Regions from separate parts of the Homo sapiens genome. Here region 2 is linked to region 1. Evidence: fine-mapped expression QTL. A gene starts in region 1. The other region holds a variant in brackets. All regions are shown on one strand. Distances are from middle to middle. Region 1 holds the start of SYNPR (synaptoporin). Region 2 overlaps SYNPR (synaptoporin).

Region 1 (8,000 bases):
TAGAAATTCACTATATGTTAAGCCATATTTTAATTAATATGTTCCAGAATTGCACAGCTTCCCTATGTTGGCTAGGCTGGTCTTGAACTCCTGGGCTCAAGCAATCCTCCCATCTCAGCCTCCCAAAGTGCTGAGATTATAGGCATGAGCCACCATCCCTGGCTAATTCATTCTTTTTGATGGCAATATAATATTTCATAACATGATGAATCATACTTTAATTATTTTCTTATAATGGACTTACTAGTTATTTCCAGTTCTTTTCACTACAGATGATGTTGCAATAAATATTCTTGAGAATATTGCTATTATCTGAATGTTTATGCCTCCCCCCAAGTTCACATGTTGAAATATAGTTCCCAAAGTGATGGTCTTAGGGGGTGGGGCCTTTGGGAGGTGATTAGCTCATAAATGTGGAGCCCTTGTGAATGGGATTAGTGTTCTTATAAGGGACAGACGAGATCAGAGTTCTTCCCTTCTGCTATGAGAAGACACAGCAAGAAGGCTCCATCTGTGAACCAGAAAGTAGGCCCTCACTAAACAACGAATCTGATGGCACCTTGATCTTAGACTTTCCAGTATTCAGAACTATGAGAAATAAATTTCTGTTGTGTATAAGCTATCCAGTTTATGGTGTTTTGTTATAGCAACCCCCAAAACTAAGATACATATATCTTTACATGCATGTTTATTTCTACAGCATGGGGAAATTGCAGCTTAAAGACACTGTCAAGTTTAAAGCTGCTCTCCATTGCTTTGTAAAACTTTCACAGAAACAGGATAAACTGGGATATTTTAAGTGCTCTGTCATTACCGGTTTACAATTTTTGCTGATTACTTGCTGTTTAACCAAGCGCTATGAAAGGAACCAGTGAGGGAAACAGAGACAAACAGAAGAAATGTTCTACCATCTATAAGAAATCACATTTCCTGTCATTGTCAATATCTCCTACAGAAAAAGATACCTCAGAGTGCCTCCTCAAGCCATTGTGTGCACACAAAATGTATGTTCTTTCCCTCTGTTCACTACTAGCTTTTTCAGCAACTAGTACTCTCTCCTCATGTCTCTAGCTCAGCTCTTTTAAAATGTAGGTCAACCAACTAACTTATCTAACTTTTAAAATTTGCTTTGTCCATTATTCATGTTCTTTTCCACAAATGAGAGTCTAATTACTGAGGTACAAGCAAAAAGCCCTTCCTCCTTCGAGCCTTAGAATCCTGGAAGAGAGAGGGGAAGGACTGCAAATAATTTAAATGTAGTAACTTAGTAACCTTTATTCTATTTCACTCTTTCTCTCACACACACACATCACCTGTGCACACACACACACACACACACCCCTCCCCCAAGGGGGGGAGCTATAAAACGGTATTTTGCAGTGTGATAAATTCTTATGAGTGAATGAATAAAAATCTAGTGGAAGTTCAAAGAACGAGGTGAATCATTCAGCTTGGGATAGAGGAAAGAGGAAGGAATAAATACGAGAAAAGTCTTCATTGAGGAGGTAACATTTAGTTGAGGTAAAAAACAAACATTTTTTTTTTTTTTAGGCTTGGAAGGTGAGGACATTCCATACAGTGTGAATAGAAATAGCAAGGGCACTGAGGTAAAAGGGGCTTTTGAGTTTTGGAGGGATCTGGTATAGCTTAGAGTGGTGGTTCTCCAATTATAACATGGATAAGAGTTACGCAGGGAGCTCATTTAAAATGCAGATTCATGGGCACCCATCTTATCAATATTTTGATTTGGTAGCCTGAAACCTGTAATTTGAACAAGTTCATCCAGATAACAAACACCTTTTTATATAGCAGTAGAGGCTGTGTGAGGAACAATGGCACAAAATCATGTTGCCACAGTATTGGTGTGTACACGAACTAATATTTCAGATAGGTGAGCGTGTGAGACAATAAGAGATTATGTCAGAAAATGATGTCAGCTCTTTGAACTTGGTTTTGAGAGATAATAGCTTGACAATGGAGCTATTATTTTCTTCCCTAAAGGCCACTACTTCACAGGAAATATTTATTGAATGGCTGAATGAATGAATGCGGGCAGAATTCTGAGAAAGCAAACTGAAAGTTTCCAGAACTGTGAGGATTGCTTGCTTGTTTAACTTGACTGTAAGGGAAACAGTTTCAGAATAGCCAGCTCTGAACCACTAATTCAAGCCTTCCAAAAGCTGTCCTGGTGTATGCAATATTGATATACGCATACATTTTCATTCAAGTCTACAAACAAGGTAAATGTAATTATCTTGTAGATCATCCGTGTAAACAATCATCACAGTTATGTAGCCACTGCCAGATATAAGCCCTTGGAGCTAAGATCTGGGAACAGAGAACAGGCTCTTACATAATTTCCCAGCTAGTCAGTGTTAGGGACTCTGATTAATGCTACATGACAGGCTTTGAACTTTCTATTCAGATAGGTTTGCTTGCCTTTTGGAGTTCCTAGCAAGACGAAACGTGTGACCTGCAGATTTCATTCTGAATAACCATCATCCAGCCAACAACACTGACATGGCTCTGTGGCCCTGTGGGTAACCGTTTCTGTGCCTCACTCCTCTGCCCATAGACAAATTGCAATAAGAGCGTCAGGGTGGTTTCACGGAAGTGGAATACAACTTCCTAAAGCCCAGTCGCTGAAGAAAGCCATGGCAAACAGGCTGGTGGGCTCTTCTGGGTATAATCAGAAAAGCCCTAGAGGAGTGGCCAGAGAAAAGAAACTATAGTAGGGAAGGAAGGAGTTCTGCTCTCTACCCGCCGCCGTTTATAACAGTCTGTAATAGCTTCGCAGCATCTTTCCCTCCCTGAAGCTCCCGCGGAGCAGTTGAACACGCGCTTCCAGCATCCCAGTCCCGCAGAGGAGCTGTCTCAGTTCTGACCAACTTTCTGAGCTTGGCCAAGTCTTCCCGGCTCCTCCGCTCAACTATGGGTCCCTCCACCCATCCCCTCATCCCCACGAAGGTCCAGGTGAGGGGCCAGAACCCAGCGGCAGCCCTTCCATGCGCCCCCCTCCCCTATCTCCCAAGGGGGAGGTTTCTTTCCACAGCCCCTGCGCGTCTGCAAGCGGTGAGGTGAGACGACACTTGTCTAAGCCCCTGCAAAAATGCGTCCACACTCCCGCCTCCAAGCAGGGTGCCTCGATTTTGTCCTCACCACCTTGGAACGGCATCTTAGGAGGGGGCAGGATTGAAATCCCCGGCTTGAGGGTTGAATCTCCGGCTTGGAGCAGAACTGAGCAGGGAGCACCCCATCCGACCTCTCCTCACCTGATAGCTGGCTGCCTGGCGCCCCTCCCTGCACACACACTGCTACTCACCAATTCCAGGGCTCGCAGGAAGGCAAGGGGCTCCTTCAGCACCCGGAAGGTGCCCGCAGAGGCCAGCTTTGGGGGAATGAGGCGAGAGAGAGAAAGCAAAGCGTGAGGAAGGGGCTGGGGGCGCCTCTCCCAAGCCGCGGCATCCCCCGCCCCCTGCTCCCAGCCAGCCGCCCTGCCCAGTTCTGTCTCACCTGACTCACAGGGTCCATAGCTCGCCCTCGCTCGCTCTTCTCATCCACCAGTTCTTTTTAAAAATGAAGTTCGCTTGGCACCACCGTCCTCAGGGCCAGAAGCCCCTTCGGGAGCAGCCAGAGGAGCGACACCCTGGAGCAGCCCGGCGAGGGCAGGGGGCCTCGGGGAGCCCACCCGCTAACGCTGGGCTCTGCGCTCCGGGAACCCAGCGCGTCGGGGAAGCGAAGCGAGTCAGCGAGGGGTGGGCAGGGAAGAGCTGGGGCAGGGTAGATACAACAGGGGAGGGGGAAACCCATGGAGCCAGGGGAAGGCTGTCATTGGCCAGCCGCGCTCCAGAGGGGAGGGCGAGGAGGTGGGCGAGGCAGGGCCCACAGACATTGGTGCAGGCTCAGCCGTGCGCCCGGTGCCCTCTGGCTCCGGGGAAACTTTGGGTCTGTTGGTTTGGGAAAGCGGGCTTGGCACCATCAGCAAGACGGCTGTCCACCTGAAGAAGGGGTTTCCAGGTAGGAGGAAGACACCCACACTTTACCTGAGACATCTGTGTGAGTTCTGATGACTTCCAAACAGCAAAATAATAATAATGATAAATACATAAAAATAAAAAAATAACTATTTGTTGGCTCTTTCATTCATTCCTTCAAGCCTTTATGGAGCATCCTTCCTGTGGGCAGGCAGTGCTTAGGTGCTGGGGTACATCAAAAAAACAGGATAAGCATTGTCACTTCCCCCAGGGGAAGCAAAAGGGGAAAAATAACTTGCAATGTGGTCTGGACAGTGGCGCAGAGCAGAGCACAGGGGCCATGGGCACAGGGCAGGGGATCCATCTTGGCCTGTGGATGCCAGAGAGAGGACCAGGACAGAGGAAACTGCCTGGAGAGAAGAGGTGGAAACAAATTAATCTTGAATGTGGGACCATGCGCCAGTGGAAAACAGATTTAGCAAGGATGAAATGGCCAAGGTAAAACATCTCATGAAAGGCTAAACAGGGAATGAAATTTAGGTACCTTTCAAACTCATTTTATTTCTACTGAGATCTTTTGCCTGATATCTGACCCCCAAATGAACTCCCTTGTCAAACTCATAAATATAACACTGGGTCCCTCCTCCAAAGTTAGACTGTTTTCTTGAAACTTAGTGAAAGGTGGTTCACGTTGTTTACTCTTAGTGGGCTAATCTTGCTGAATATAATAAAAACAACAACAACCAAACAAGTGAGTTCTTTCTATGAGCTGAAAACTGTGCTAAGGGCTTTACAAACATTACTTCATTCAATATTCACAAACCCCCATAAGTTAATAATAATATTATTCCCATTTTAGAGATGAGGAAATTGAGGCCCATGGAAGGATAGTGGCCTGCCCAAGGTTGCCCAGCTAGCAGGTAGTGAAGTCAGAATTGATTTTTTTAAAATCAGAAAAACAAAAGAAGAAGAAGGGGAAAAAAGGAAGAGGAGGAAGAAGAAGAAGGAGAGGAGAGCTCTTAGCTACTACATCAAGTAGTGATATGTCCTCTTCCTTCTCACTCCCTTTGGACTGGATTCCATTTATGAGTGGTCTCCCAGCAACACAGATAGTCCATCTGTTTACTATAAAGATTTGCCAAAAAGGTTTGGAGTTCATGGGTGTGTATGTGTGTGTTGGTGGGGGGGGTGGGTATTTGATATGTAGAAGTAGATGAGAAATACGGAAATCAGTAATTTGCTGTCTGGGAGGGGGAGGCAGCTTCTAGTGTAAATGCCCCCTGCTCATGAATTTTGCTGCAGAAAAACTAGAAATTTAGAGAGTAGGAACTCCAGTGGACTGGTTGCACCATCTGCAGTCAGCCAGTTTTGTTCCTACTGCTCTTCCTACATGCAGATAGAGCCTAAAACAATTAGAAACAGTTGTTTCAAAAATAAGCCATTATGCAACTATGGGGGAGGGGTGGGGGGAACTAACACTATCAATTACTTAGTGTGTACCCTACCATGTATGTATATGATCTTATGGGGGAAGTTACTTAACCTCTTCAAGACCTCAGTTTGTTTCTTTGTTTTAATCTGTAAAATGGAGCCAAAATACCTATCTTAACTGTTTTTTGTGAGAACCCAATGAGATTTTGCAGATAGCCCATCTAGGGCAGTCTGCATTTCATAAGCCCTCAGCATGTATTAGTTACATATCACTTCTATAGAAGCAAAGGGGAAGACTCAGAGGTCCATATCAGAGGCAGGGTAGATTGTAGCAATGTCCTGCTGCCCTCAACAGTGCACCTCAACATCTATATATCCTTGCCCTTTTGGACCCAGCAGTAGCCATGTGTCTTGTTTTGACCAGTAAAATGTGGGCATTTTATTGGTAATGTGTGCATTTCTGGGCAGAAGTTTTAAGAACCACCAAGTGATTTGCCAACTTATTTCCTTCTACCACGATGAATATAATTTCTATATAGAGGTTACTCTGACAGCTTGGGTCCCAGTGTAAGGATGACATAGGCAGATCTGCAACCAGACCTTGATGGACATGAAGCTGAGCAAACAAAAAATGCATTTTGGGGTGTAAGCAACTGAAAAATTTAGGTCTTTTGTTACTGCAGCACAACATAACCTAAGCCGACTGATAACACAGCTAGTAAAGTAGCCGAACCAAAATTTCACCCTAGGTTCGTATGATCTCATGGTCCTTGTGTTCATCCTCTTTGCATGGTAGTCAACCAGCTTACAGGGTATGACATCTCCTCCATATGCTTAATAACGATAATTATTATTGTAATACCTATTACCAGTTTAGTTCCTGCTACCTGCCAGGCATTGTGCTAAGTGCTTTATATACATCATTTAAGTATCATAATAATTTCCCCTTTTCTAGATAGTATATCCAGCCTTAGAATGGCTATGTAACATGCCTAAGGTCATCTACATATTTATATCTCTTTATACAGGGAAAGAGACTTATTTAAAATATTGCCTACTTGCAGATTATTTGAATTGAAAACTTGGCACAGAGGAAGTGTGATTACTGAGCCTATTCCCTCAGGGCTCTCTTCACACCCAGTGTTCCTTCTGACTAATATGGTGGCATATTTTTTTCCAGTTCTCCAAACACCATGTGAAGGAAGTCAGAATTGTGGCAAATGGCAGTGTAATAGCTTAGACAACAATTGCACATTGTCAGAGGATGCTTTTCCTATTCCAGAAATGTATGAGCTTCCAACAGCTGCATCACCAAAATAACCCAGAGTTTCATATCACATTTGCAATGTTAAATATTTTGTAGACTTTGGGTTAGAACCTCTGTATTCAGACCTGGAAATAACATTGGGTTCCCTAAAGAACTAGATTAGGGGAGATAGGACAGATGATATAAACACTGCCACAATATTACTATCAGTGGTTAAGGGTGACCCATTATCTTTTGCCCCAAGATGATGAAAGATAATTTCCCTCTTACTATGATGAATCTATCATGATAGATGAAGGATAAAGTTAACTTTGGTGGGGCATAAATGATCCATTTTAGTGGCCAGTGTTGATTATGTAAATCAAATAATTTCCAAATTCTCTTTTGTTTTGAGCCAGGGACCCATAGCTATGAATACTTCCTTTGATATGCCAAGGCAATCCATTTATTTACTGCAGTCCTCTGGTTCTCAATAGAGGGTGATTTGGGCCCTTCCCGCCACTGGAAAACATGTAACAATGTTTGGAGACATTTTGATTGTCACAACGAGGTGGGGGCAGGGGATGGAGATGACACTACTGGCTTCCAGAGGGCAGAAGCAAGAGATGCTGCTCAATATCCTACAATTCAGAGGACAGTTACTCAAAACAAAGAATTATCTGGAAAATGTCAATGGTGCCAAGGTAGAGAAACTTCAGCAAGTAAGGGCTGAGTGCCTATTGTGCCCTGGTACTGTTCTAGATACTGTAAACAGCTTGCCAAGTTTCCTGTCTTCCCAAAGCTTACACTGTAGTAAGAAATACATTCAGCCCAATTTAGTAAAGCTCAACATTTGCTAAATCAGCAAATGAGAATCAAGTTACAAACCAACCATTTTGAATCTCAAAGAGGGTTAATCTTGAGTCAAACTATACAAACCAAAGTACCAATCTGCAATAGAAGAACTTGCATTATTCAGGCAAATTAAATCTTGTTCTCATAGGAAAATATACCTTGTTCGCAAATGAAAATCAAGTAACAAAACCAAGCATTTTGAATCTCAAAGAGGGTTAATCTTGAGTCAAACTATACAAACCAAACTACCAAGCTGCAATAGAAGAACTTGCATTATTCAGGCTAATTAAATCTTGTTCTCATAGGAAAATATACCTGGGTTTCATATTCCCATGTCTTTTGTGACAAAGACAAAAAACTAATTTAAAACTTTATCTGCAGCAACTTAATACAGGAGGAAACACTACCCGTATGTTATGAAATCTAAAATAATGGAAATGAGTGGAAGTCTGTCAAAATGTTGTATATTTAACTCTCTGCTCATGCTGCTAACC
Region 2 (10,871 bases), 47 kb before region 1:
GATTGAGTAGGAATTTGAACATACATTTTAAAGTTCTCTTGGTGGTAGTGTTATTTTCCTTAAGCAAGTTTGAGTAAAGCTTTTGACACTTACAATTAGAAAACTCACATGTAGAGGTCTGTCCTTGAAGTCATGTATTCCAGAAGAATGCACCAGTAGAACCTAGAGGAAACTGACCCAGTCCAGTCAACAAATAACTGATTGGATCAAGGACTACTTTTCCATAGGGTACATTTGCTGGAGAAAAGGCTCCTGAGGGCTGAGAGGCACTTCTGAGTCCAGAAAGAGTCACTGAGCTTCTTGACACCAGGCACAGGTGAGCCTACATAAGCCAGAAAACAAGTTGCTCTCAGCCCAGCCAGCCCGAGTTGATGCTAAAATACCTGCAGGGATGTCCAGACCCTGGGAACAAGGGGTTACATGCTCTCCTGTACACAACCTGATATCAGAACACTGTGCTGTGATATTTACTTTCCTCCTTTAATAAGGGGCAGATAAGAGAGGCAGCTGCTAGGCCAAGCAAAGGACCCCTTTGTGGGTAAAACCCAGAGGTACCTGGACAGCGAATTTCTAGTCTTGAGTCCTGGGTTAGATGAAAAAATTGATCTCATCCTCGAATTAGTCTCTATTCTAGCTTTACTTGAGAAAGTTTTGACATTTCTGGAAAAGGCAAATGTGTTCATAGGGTAGCCATATGATTTATTACCCAGAGACACATTCGTGAGTTGAAGGGGACTCTTTCAATTGCCTCAGGATGCAGGTGTAAAAATAGTCTTAAGACGTATGGCCAACATTACTAGTCATCAGAGAGCATAGTCCTCTCCTCAAGAAATGTATTACATTACATTTTGAGATTTTCTCTAATTCAGGGAAATTAACTGGATTAGGAACAAACTCATTCCATTTTCTCCAATTTTAATTGCTGTGTTGTGATGTCTTGGGTGAGGGTTTGCATTGCAGGTTGGTTAAAGGACTAGATTTAGATTCCGGGTTCAAATCCTGGCTCAACCACTAAACAGCTGTGCCACTTTGGGGTAGTTACCTCTCTGTGTCTCAGTTTTCCCACCCGTAAAATAGGGCTAAGAAGAGTAGCTACCCCATTAAATTGCTGTGATAATTAAACTATAATGTAGGTTAAGTGACCAGCTTTGTGACTGATACATAATAAACTCTCATAATAAAATAATGTATTAAACATAAATATTATTTTTAATATTTAAACAATGCCATGTTGTCACTTGAGAGGCAGTTTGCTGAATAGTCAAATTCTTTCATTTGTTTACGTGGAGAGAAAGTGTGTTTTTCTTGGCTCGTTGATAATAGTTATTACTTTTATACCACCTAAGAACTAGGAGACTGCTCCTATTTTTAGAACTGTGATAGCTGAGATAACTCTCAGGCTAGATTTGACTTATAGATTGTATTCAAATAATTCAAATAAACATATTGTGCGATGACTAGTGTACAGCTTTTTCAATAACTGCTGGAGATGTGGCGGTCAATTTGAGAAAACAGGTCCTGACCTCTCATGGACATTATAATCAATAAAAGGTAGAAGAAAATAAAGCCACCACTGTAATACTCGTGTTTAAACAGAAGCCACCAATAAATGTGGCAAGTTTATTTAGCCATAGTAGATTCAAGTACCAGCTCTGGGGAATTCAGAGCTGTGGCCCCCAGGTTCCTCTGAGGTCACATCAACTCTCCAATTGGATGTTTATTTTTCAGGTCCACAGTGTCCAGGCATCCACAGCTCTCCTGCTAAGCCCCAGAGCACTGCATTCTTCCCAGGGCTGCTGGCTACTATTCTTAGTCACCAGCAATTTTGCTTTTATGTTCATTGCCTTGTGCATTTACAAAACACATGATTGTGAGTCAAAGCCAGGGAGACAGGCATGTTAGGGGAACTGGGGCCTGGAGCACTCAACCCAGTGATTAAACTCCTAGATCACACTGGTACATTATGAATTCCTTCTTTTAAATATAGACCAGTCTCATTTGATATGAAATGGACTGACTCAGGCTAGCAATGCTAAACAGGTCACCTAATTGTGGGGAAATGTGCAGCCTGAATACAAGATTCTGGACATTCCCAGAAAGGGAGATGAGGCTCTGAGCTTTTGCAACCTGAGGATAAAGGGAAACCTGAGAAGGCACTCTCATTTTGTGAATATCACAGTTTTTCTGAGAGTGTGTTGAATTTTTTTTAATGGCTTAGTACTGAGCATCTTGAATTATATAACTGGTCTTGTGGTAGATGTGAGATTTGTAGAATTTCTTAAAAGTCATGTTAAAACCTAATCATGGGGACACTAAAATGTATTTTAAATTCAGCATATGTGGCATTCCTCATTTAAATAATATTTTGCAATTTATGCCCAATTAATTTGCTAACAATATTTACTTTGTCCTGCTTTTTCCATCTGTGCCTCTCCTGATCCTTTTCACACATTGCCTTTTTTAAGGTGAATTTCTTGATATATTACATACATGCAGAAAAGTGTAAAACAGCTCAATGAATTTTCAGAGGGTGAACACACCTATTACTCAATCCCTAGATCAAGAAATAATATATTATTGGAACCCCAGAAGCCCCTTCCTTAACCTCTAACCACCAAAAGTTAGCTACTGTCCTAACTTCTAATACCACAATGTGTTTTTTAAAAATATTTTTGAACACAAATTGAATTATATATTGTACTGTCTTTTGTATCTAGTTTCTTTTGCTCAGTTTTTTTGGGTGAAATTCATTCATGTTGTGTAAACTCATAGTTTGTCCATTCTCATCACTGTAAGTCAAATGCATAAATATACCAAAATGTATTTGTTCATCATGCTACTGATAAGCATTTGTGGCTTTATAAATTCTGTTATGAACACACTTATTTGTGTCTTTTGGGAAACATACCTAAGAATGGAATTGTTTGGACATAATACATTTATAATACATATAGCTAGATATAAACACACATACACAATACATAAATAGGTATTACATGTACCACATATACATGATAACATATATGTACATTTCATTTCAACATATACATATACCCACTTTAGTAGGTACTGCTGAGGTTATCCAAAGTTATATCAATTTACACTCCTACCAACAGTGTAAAAAAGTTCTAGTTGTTCTATATCCTTGCTGTCACTTGGTATTGTCCTTTTCATTTGGGTTATTTTGGTGGGATCACATTTTCTTTTATAATGTATATATTTATCTCCATTCTACTTTACACTTCCTTCATTGCCAATAACTATTTCCCCTCCCAATTTGCACTAATGATTGCAACTTTTACATAGTTAGTAATTAATATATATCTAGTCACTAACAAAATGAAACAGGAAATCTAAAAGTAAAGTGTCAGTGGTTCATTTTTTTTTTTCTATGAGGAAAGTAGTCTTTTAATGGATTGAGAAAGTATTATTATTGGCTTTGGTAAAATTTAGGAACATGGAAATGAATCTGATGGCCATTGAAATTAAGAACATTTCCAAATTACACTTCTTAAAATTTGCCCAATGTAAACTTAATTAGAAAGAGTACAAGCACAACCCTTCAATTACTTCCATGAGTTACTAAGTCTGATTCTTACCAGGAACTTGGCTTTCTTTTGAAGATTTCAAAGTTACCAGCAATCACAACTCCCTTTCTTGGTGCTGCTATTTAACAGAGAGAGAAACTGATAAATAATGCAGAAGACACTGATTTCAGGCCATCACTATGAGAAGATAGAAGACCAAGGACCAGCATCTGGCTTCTGGGCTTCTAGATAAGACTGGACACTCAGTGATCTGGAATGAACAAAGTATGATTCCAACCAGTGGCCCTCTGGAGTTCCTTTTTATATATAAGGAATGGTGATGCCCATTGCAATCTCAGTATAATCCTATTTGTTACGAAGGAGACCTTCCCAATGCAGACATGGCTTCATTATTGTCCCTAACAGCTGGTGATGGAAGAATAAAGTAGACTTATTGTAAGGTATTTTGATTCACACACAATCCCTTATATATAACCTGAGAAATGAATACTAAGTGAGGTCCTGTGGCCAGCTTCAGCCTCTGCTGTCTGTTGGGTGTTGGTTAAGAGCTCATCCTCCACAATCAGGCAGATATGTCCACACTCCTACACTGCCATTGACTTCAATGGGATCTTTAACATGTCCCTTAACTTTTCTAAGCCTCATTTTTCTCATCAATAAAGTCATCATTCCTGCTACCAAGAGGTGCTGTGAAGATCAAATAAGATCATGTGTGTGGGTATGGCAAACTTGAATTGTCAACCAATTTCTTCTTTTATTCTCCCACCTCATCCTCATTCAAGCAGAGAAACATGGGGTCACCATTTGCTCTGGGACTGGGGTTCTTCAGAAATGGACCAATGAATAAAAATGACAATTTCTCATCTTCTGGTTCTATCTTGGACATGCAGGGATGTGGAGACAGAATGAATCCACTTTTATAGCCCACGTCTCCTAGAGCCCCAGAGTGTTGTGGAGATGAGGTACCCAAAGCTTCCCTATCTTCAGCAGGAAGTGAAAGCTAGTTGAGAAGGAAAGATGCATGGGCTTGCACAGGGTCCAGTTGTGGGGACAAGGAGCTCTGTGTCAGATGTCAGCTGTGTGGATGGACAGTTTCCACCGAGAATGATGGGAGGACAGACATTACTTTCCAAGGTTACCTAAGCCAGGAGTCAAATGGGGACAAATCCAAACTGGGAATTTGCTCAGTCTCCATTTGGAGTGTGTTGAAATCTGACTAAATGAATTTACACTGAGTGTAGGAGGCCAGCAGGGGCCCTGCCAGGTCCAGATGGAGAACCAGCTAGCCACTCCCT[A/G]CTGTCACCAGGTTGGCACCTCAGTAAGATCCTGGGCTTAGGATCTTTCCTGGGTAGAAAGGGGGAATAAATTGGAGAAGGTGAATATGATTACATTTTGTACCTGAGTGACTAACACATGCTGCATCGGACCTTTCCTGAGAGTGTGTAGATGATGTTCTGACCACTAGGTAGGTTGTAGGTTCAAATTATTTTATTAAAGAAACTAATGAAAATTATGTTTCTTGTGTACCCCAAGTGAGTGATGCTAAGAATTCATACCTATTACATGTGAGCAAATGCTTGGTACATGTGAATGGTCATTACTATTATCTGCAAGATCTAATTAACGTTCTGTCTCTTGTCACCTAAGAATTAAGTTGTAATTACAGTGGCTGTTCTGCCATACTATAAATAATTTCTACTAATACTATACTAGCAGAGAATTTTTCAGCTTCTAACCTGTTGGGAGAAGAGGATATAAATGCAGAAGGCTCACCAGATGGCCTCATTAAAAAACAACTCTGATTTTCATAAAGCATTCTTCACCATTCTCAACCTGAGTTAGTGTAACTGAGGCATTATGAGGGAAAAATGCCTTGAGAGAATCAGAAACTCTCAAAGAAAATTTTCTGATATGTTCATAGGAAAACATGTGCCTCTTGCTTGTGGTATTTGTTGTGCTCTCTCCTGAGGTCCGTGTAGAACAGTCAGTTACCCGTCACCATCTGGCCAGGCTAATTCTGGGTGGCTGCAGCTGCAACCCAGTGTCTGGTAATCACAGCTCCAGGTCCTCTCCATACTAAATAGCTAGCTCAACTTGCTGCCTGGTGAGCAGATTCCACTGCAGGCAGCTTCCCTTTCTAGTAGGAGATCCAGATTTCAAAGCACCAAAGAGGACTCTTGTAATTTATAAACCCAATACTATATATTTCCTTTCTCTCCTCTTAGTAGTCTATATTGGGCTTTCAAGACCACTCACCTGGACCACACATCTCACTGGATAAGTCGTCTTACATGGACTGGTGCAGTAGTCCCATAATTGGTCCCTCTGTTCTGATTTTCCATTCTATAATCTATCTTATGCTGATTCCAGATTAATCCTCCAAAAGCCCAAATCAAGCCATGTCACCTCCCAGCTCACAAACTTTCAGTGTTTCCCCGTTGGCTACAGGATAAATGCAAATTTCCTGGCTTAGCCTTCAAGGCTCTTTATTGTCTGATCCCAGTCTTGAGAAGCCATACATTGTAATGGTTAAGAGTTCAGGTTGAGGTCACTGATACTAGTTCAAAGCTCAGGTTCTCTGCTTTCTTAATATCTTTTCATCAAGGTGGCCACTCTTTCAGTTCACTCATCTTAAAATGAGATTAATAATACTTACACAACTGTTGTAGGGATTGAGTTAAATAAAAATAATTTGCCTAGTACCTTTGCACTGAAAATACTCATTAGACACAAGTGACAGTTACAATAATTGCAATTAAATTTTCAGCATCATTTTTCATTATTGGCCAATATTCCAGCTGCCATGCTTATTGAAGCAGTATACTATAGGTGGCTAAACATTAGGACTTTGTAATAAGACTGAGTTTAAATGCTGACTCTGCTACTTATTGTGCAAGTTGGGCAAGTTATTCATCATGCTGGGCTTCACTGTCCTTCTCAGTAAAATGGAAATAATAATAACTGCCTCATGGGAATGTTGTGAGTATTAAATGAGAGAATGCATGTGAAAAACAACAATTCTTGGAACAAAGTGCTAAGGAAAAGTAAATATAATTTCCTGTCCTATTATCACCTTATTTTAATATACTCTCTTTGAATGTACATTTTAAATTTTATTTGCATTTTTGCTTTTGTTTTTCTTTTCTTTGTCTATTCTAGAACCACCCTATAAACCTTACTCTTTTATTTGTAATTCTCCAGGTCCTACAGTCTTTGAACTCTGATCAAATGCTCAAGTGTTTCCTTCTCCAAAAGTCTTCCATCATGTCTCAGCAAAAAACAATGCCAAAAAAAAATTATTTGGGGAGTATAAAGAAGTACTTTCCAACACACCTGAGATTTTCTGGCCTGTGTATGTTTTATCTTATCAACTAAGTAATGAAGTTCAAGGATTTAATCTTCATATTAACTCCATAGTAGAAACTCAATAAATGCCTGTAGAATTGAATAAATTTCATCCAGTTTTCCCTCTCCCTTTTTGCCATAAGGCCCAGAAATTTAGGAATTAAAGCTGTGAAGTGGAAAGAAAGAAGGTTGGCTTTCCATTGGAAAGTGGATCAGTCCATAGCATTACCTTTGGCTCTTTCTTATTTCCTCTGGGGCCAGTTTTGAGTATTATGCCCTTATGAGAAAGGATTGTTGACTCAAAAGCGCTCAGTTGGGCAAGAAACAAACATCAAAAGCTCTTCCCCAGCAAACTCCACAGTCACTCTGCAGCTTGAGCCCTGCTATTTTCAATTTTACTGATGTGCTTAAACTAGTCCTGCTTTGTGCCTTTTCTGAATCTTGAAAAAGAGGCCTCTTGGGAGCTTAAAGTCTTATCTTCTACTCTTATCATGGCTGTGCCTACTGGAAGAAGCTCTCACTGGGCAACCCTCAATAAAAAGCCTCTCCCTGTCCCTTAAGAAAATGTCTAAGCAGGAGAAATGCCCTATAGCACAGAGAGCCCTTAGAGGCTGCTGCATTCTTGATTTTGTAGTCTCTTCCATAAAATTTTACTCTCAATGAGTGAGTGGGTCTTACATAAGAACTTACAAATTCCTTTGTATATGTTTACATTTGCCTCAATGATGAGGTTCTCAAAGGCAGAGGACTGAATGTCTTTGGCCCCACACAGACCTAAGCTCCAAAACTGGAAGGTCGAATGATTGTGAACAAGTGACTTTGTGTCTTTGTGCTTTAGTTTTTTGTTTGTAGAATGGGGACAGGACCACCTAAGTCACAGAATCATTGTGAGCATTAAAGACCTGAGACCTTTACATAAAAGCCTCCATATAATCAGAAATACTTTTAATTAATTTACATTTGTGAAGGCAGTATAGGCTAGTGGTCAAGCGTATACATTTTTGGTAGCAGGCCAACCTGGATTTAAGCCCTGACTTACTCACACTAAACTATGTGACTTCAGGAGAGCCATTCACCTTTGTGCCTTTGTTTCCTGATCTGTAAAGTGGAAATAACACCACTCCATGAACATCTATGGGAGATTAATAAGTTTGAGAAAGTAAAGTGCCTAGCACAGTACCTAGTCCACATGTGGCACTGAAATGTGTATGTCTTCCTCCTCTGTTTATATGCATTATTTCTCCAGTATCTACATTGTGCTTTACAAACTGTATGCTCATCACAAAAGTTGCAAATGAAAACTCTATATTCCTGTAGGCACTAATGCAGAACATTGCTGCACACCCTCCATCAGTGTTGGGTGTCATCCTATTCCTCCATCAGGAAGCTTTTCCTAACATTCTGGCCAAGCAGGGACATTTCAAGAGGCTGTTTCTCCTCACTTACTGTTGCAATAGACCTAATTGGGCTGGTAACAACAGTGGACTCCCTTGGTGACAGAAGAGTGGTAAACACCCAAGAGGAACAGTTACAATTTCAAACTTGTAAGAGCTGAGAACTGCTAATTTCCTGCCAGCAAGACTGACATGGCTGCTTTTTAGTTGACCTCTTCAAGGGAAACCTCAGAAGGCCCATTGGGAGCTTTATAATGTACGGTGCAAAGAGGCCCTGAACTGATTTTGTTCAAGGGGAATTTTATTTGTGTTTATATTGGCTACTCATGTGGAGAGGTGTTTGTAAACACACAGAGAACTTCTGTGCAAAGACATGAGGTTATAATTTCAGACTTTACTCCCTAAAGGAGGAACAGAGAGCATTATCTGTGTCTCTATGTGATATTGAATAATAAGCACCTGCTATGTACTAAGCAATGAATTGGGTATTCAGACTATAGAGAGAATAAAGTACAGACTCCATTTTTAAGGAACTGGCCAATTTACAGGGGATATTGACACACATGGTATTCTGTATTCAGGGGCTTAAAATTAATTGCTCTTTCTTCTGTGCCCACATATAACTTGACTTTCATAACCCGCATAATAACAGTAATCACATTATTCTATTCCAGAAATAGAGATCAGTTTTTATGGGAATATTTGACCCTCACAATTCTCAACAGAGCAAGAATAGAGAGAGAATAAAACATACTTTCTTCTTTGGACTTTTCTCCAGTATCCACATGTTCTACTATAAAAAATGTTTACTCTTATACTAAGATGATAAATAAAAAGTGCTATTGTAGTTAAAGGTCAGAAATGGACTAAGGCCCTTGAAGTCATATTTTGGCAAAATGAAAATGCTACAATAAAATATTGATATTTTCTAAAACTAAGTTTAAAAGTACGTAAGGTCCTCCCTTTATTTGAAAGAAATATCTTGGGGGTATAAACTAAAATTGTAGTCTAAATACTTAGGCTGCCCTAGGTTAAGAATGACATCCATGTCTAGCATGCTTATTCAAATGAATGCTCCTTGTTGTCCTTGATTTTTCTGGAATACATATTTTCTAGCACTGTTAAGGCTTCTGGCTTTCAAAAATTAATAGATTGACATAATCAAAGGCAGAGGAAAGAGAACAAGTTTTCGATGATAATTTATTTGAGATGGCAGTGTTTCTGAAAAACTGAGTAGTGTAACTTCATTTCACAGATAACTCAGAACATGAAGGCCACATAGTAAATCACAAAACTAAGATTAAAATTTGTATCTGCCCCTCAAAGTGGTGCCGTTTCCATGAATAAAGTCACTAAACAAATTAGGAATCACAGTTTCTGAAATGTACAAACGAACTGTTAGGGTCTGAGAGTTCTATTACCCCAATGAGTTAATAAAAGTTTATTCATTCACACAATCATTCATTAAATATTTTCAAACTTATTGCTATATGTCAGGTAATTTTCTAATTTCTGTGGACATAAGTGGGGGAACTAGAACTGGTCCCTGCCTTCCTGGTCTAGTTGCACACTGCAGAAGAAGTACTTGGATCTCAATATCAGGCTTTTTAATTTTTTACAAGGTGTGGCTTTACAATGTTCCACTAAAAAACTGAATATAGCTTTCTTCAGCTTGTTCTGCAAGTATCTACCAGAAGGAATAGGAATGTTTTCAAAAGATATGGTGGCCATAAAATGATTCTGTTCTTTCTATTTTACCTTTTTAAAGGACTAAGCCTCGTTATGCTGACTTCCCATTGATGCATCAACTTCATTTTAAGAAATTATAATCAGGAAATAGTGAAAATAAATGTAGGCCAGGCATGGTGGCTCATACCTATAATCCTAGCACTTGGGGATGCCAAGGCAGGAGGATCACTTGAGCCCAGGAGTTCTAGACCATCCTGGACAATAGAGTGAAACCCTGTCTTTACTAAAAACAGAAAAAATTAGCCAGGTATGGTGCTGCACATCTATAGTCCCACCTACTCTGGAGGCTGAGGCAGGAGAACTGCTTGAGCTCAGGAGTTTGAGGCCGCAGTGAACCATGATTATACCATTTCACTGCAGCCCGGGTGACAGGGCAAGACCCTGTCTCAATAAATGAATAAGAAAATAGATACATATCTAAATATGTTCACTATAGCCTCATTTATAAGACAGCAAAAGAAAAAGCAACCTCCATTCTTCATAATTAGAGACTGATTAAATAAAGAACAATACAACAACATGATATAGTACTTTCTAATTGGTAAAAATAATCTTTTAGACAATTTCTTTTTAAATTTTAGGATTATTTTTCCTGTCTCTGTGAGGAATGTCATTGGTATTTTGATAGGAATTGCATTGACTCTGTAGATTGTTTTAGGCAGTATGGGCATTTTAACAATTTTTTTTTCAATGCATGAACATGGACTATTTTTCCATTTTCTTATGTGTCCTCTTCAATTTCTTTCATCAATGTCTTACAGTTTTCATTGTAGATATCTTTAACTTTGTGAGTTAAGTTTATTCCTAGGTAGTTTATCTTATTAATATTAGTTGC

Evidence for each region. PIP is the estimated chance that this variant, and not a neighbour inherited with it, causes the effect.
Region 2: its variant is fine-mapped to the expression of SYNPR in cerebellar hemisphere (GTEx, PIP above 0.99). The same link has a PIP of 0.9 or more in cerebellum.

What each region holds. Positions count from the first base shown.
Region 1 is chr3:63,274,065-63,282,064 of GRCh38, reverse strand. It overlaps SYNPR (synaptoporin), which reads right to left and starts at 3,757. Exons shown (of 6, transcript NM_001130003.2): 1 at 3,514-3,757; 2 at 3,323-3,388. The coding sequence starts at 3,531.
Region 2 is chr3:63,319,521-63,330,391 of GRCh38, reverse strand. The region is part of intron 2 of SYNPR (synaptoporin); the gene reads right to left. Among named protein-coding and RNA genes, the nearest start is that of SYNPR, 47 kb to the right of the region's middle. The variant A/G (reference allele first, on the strand shown) is at 4,844.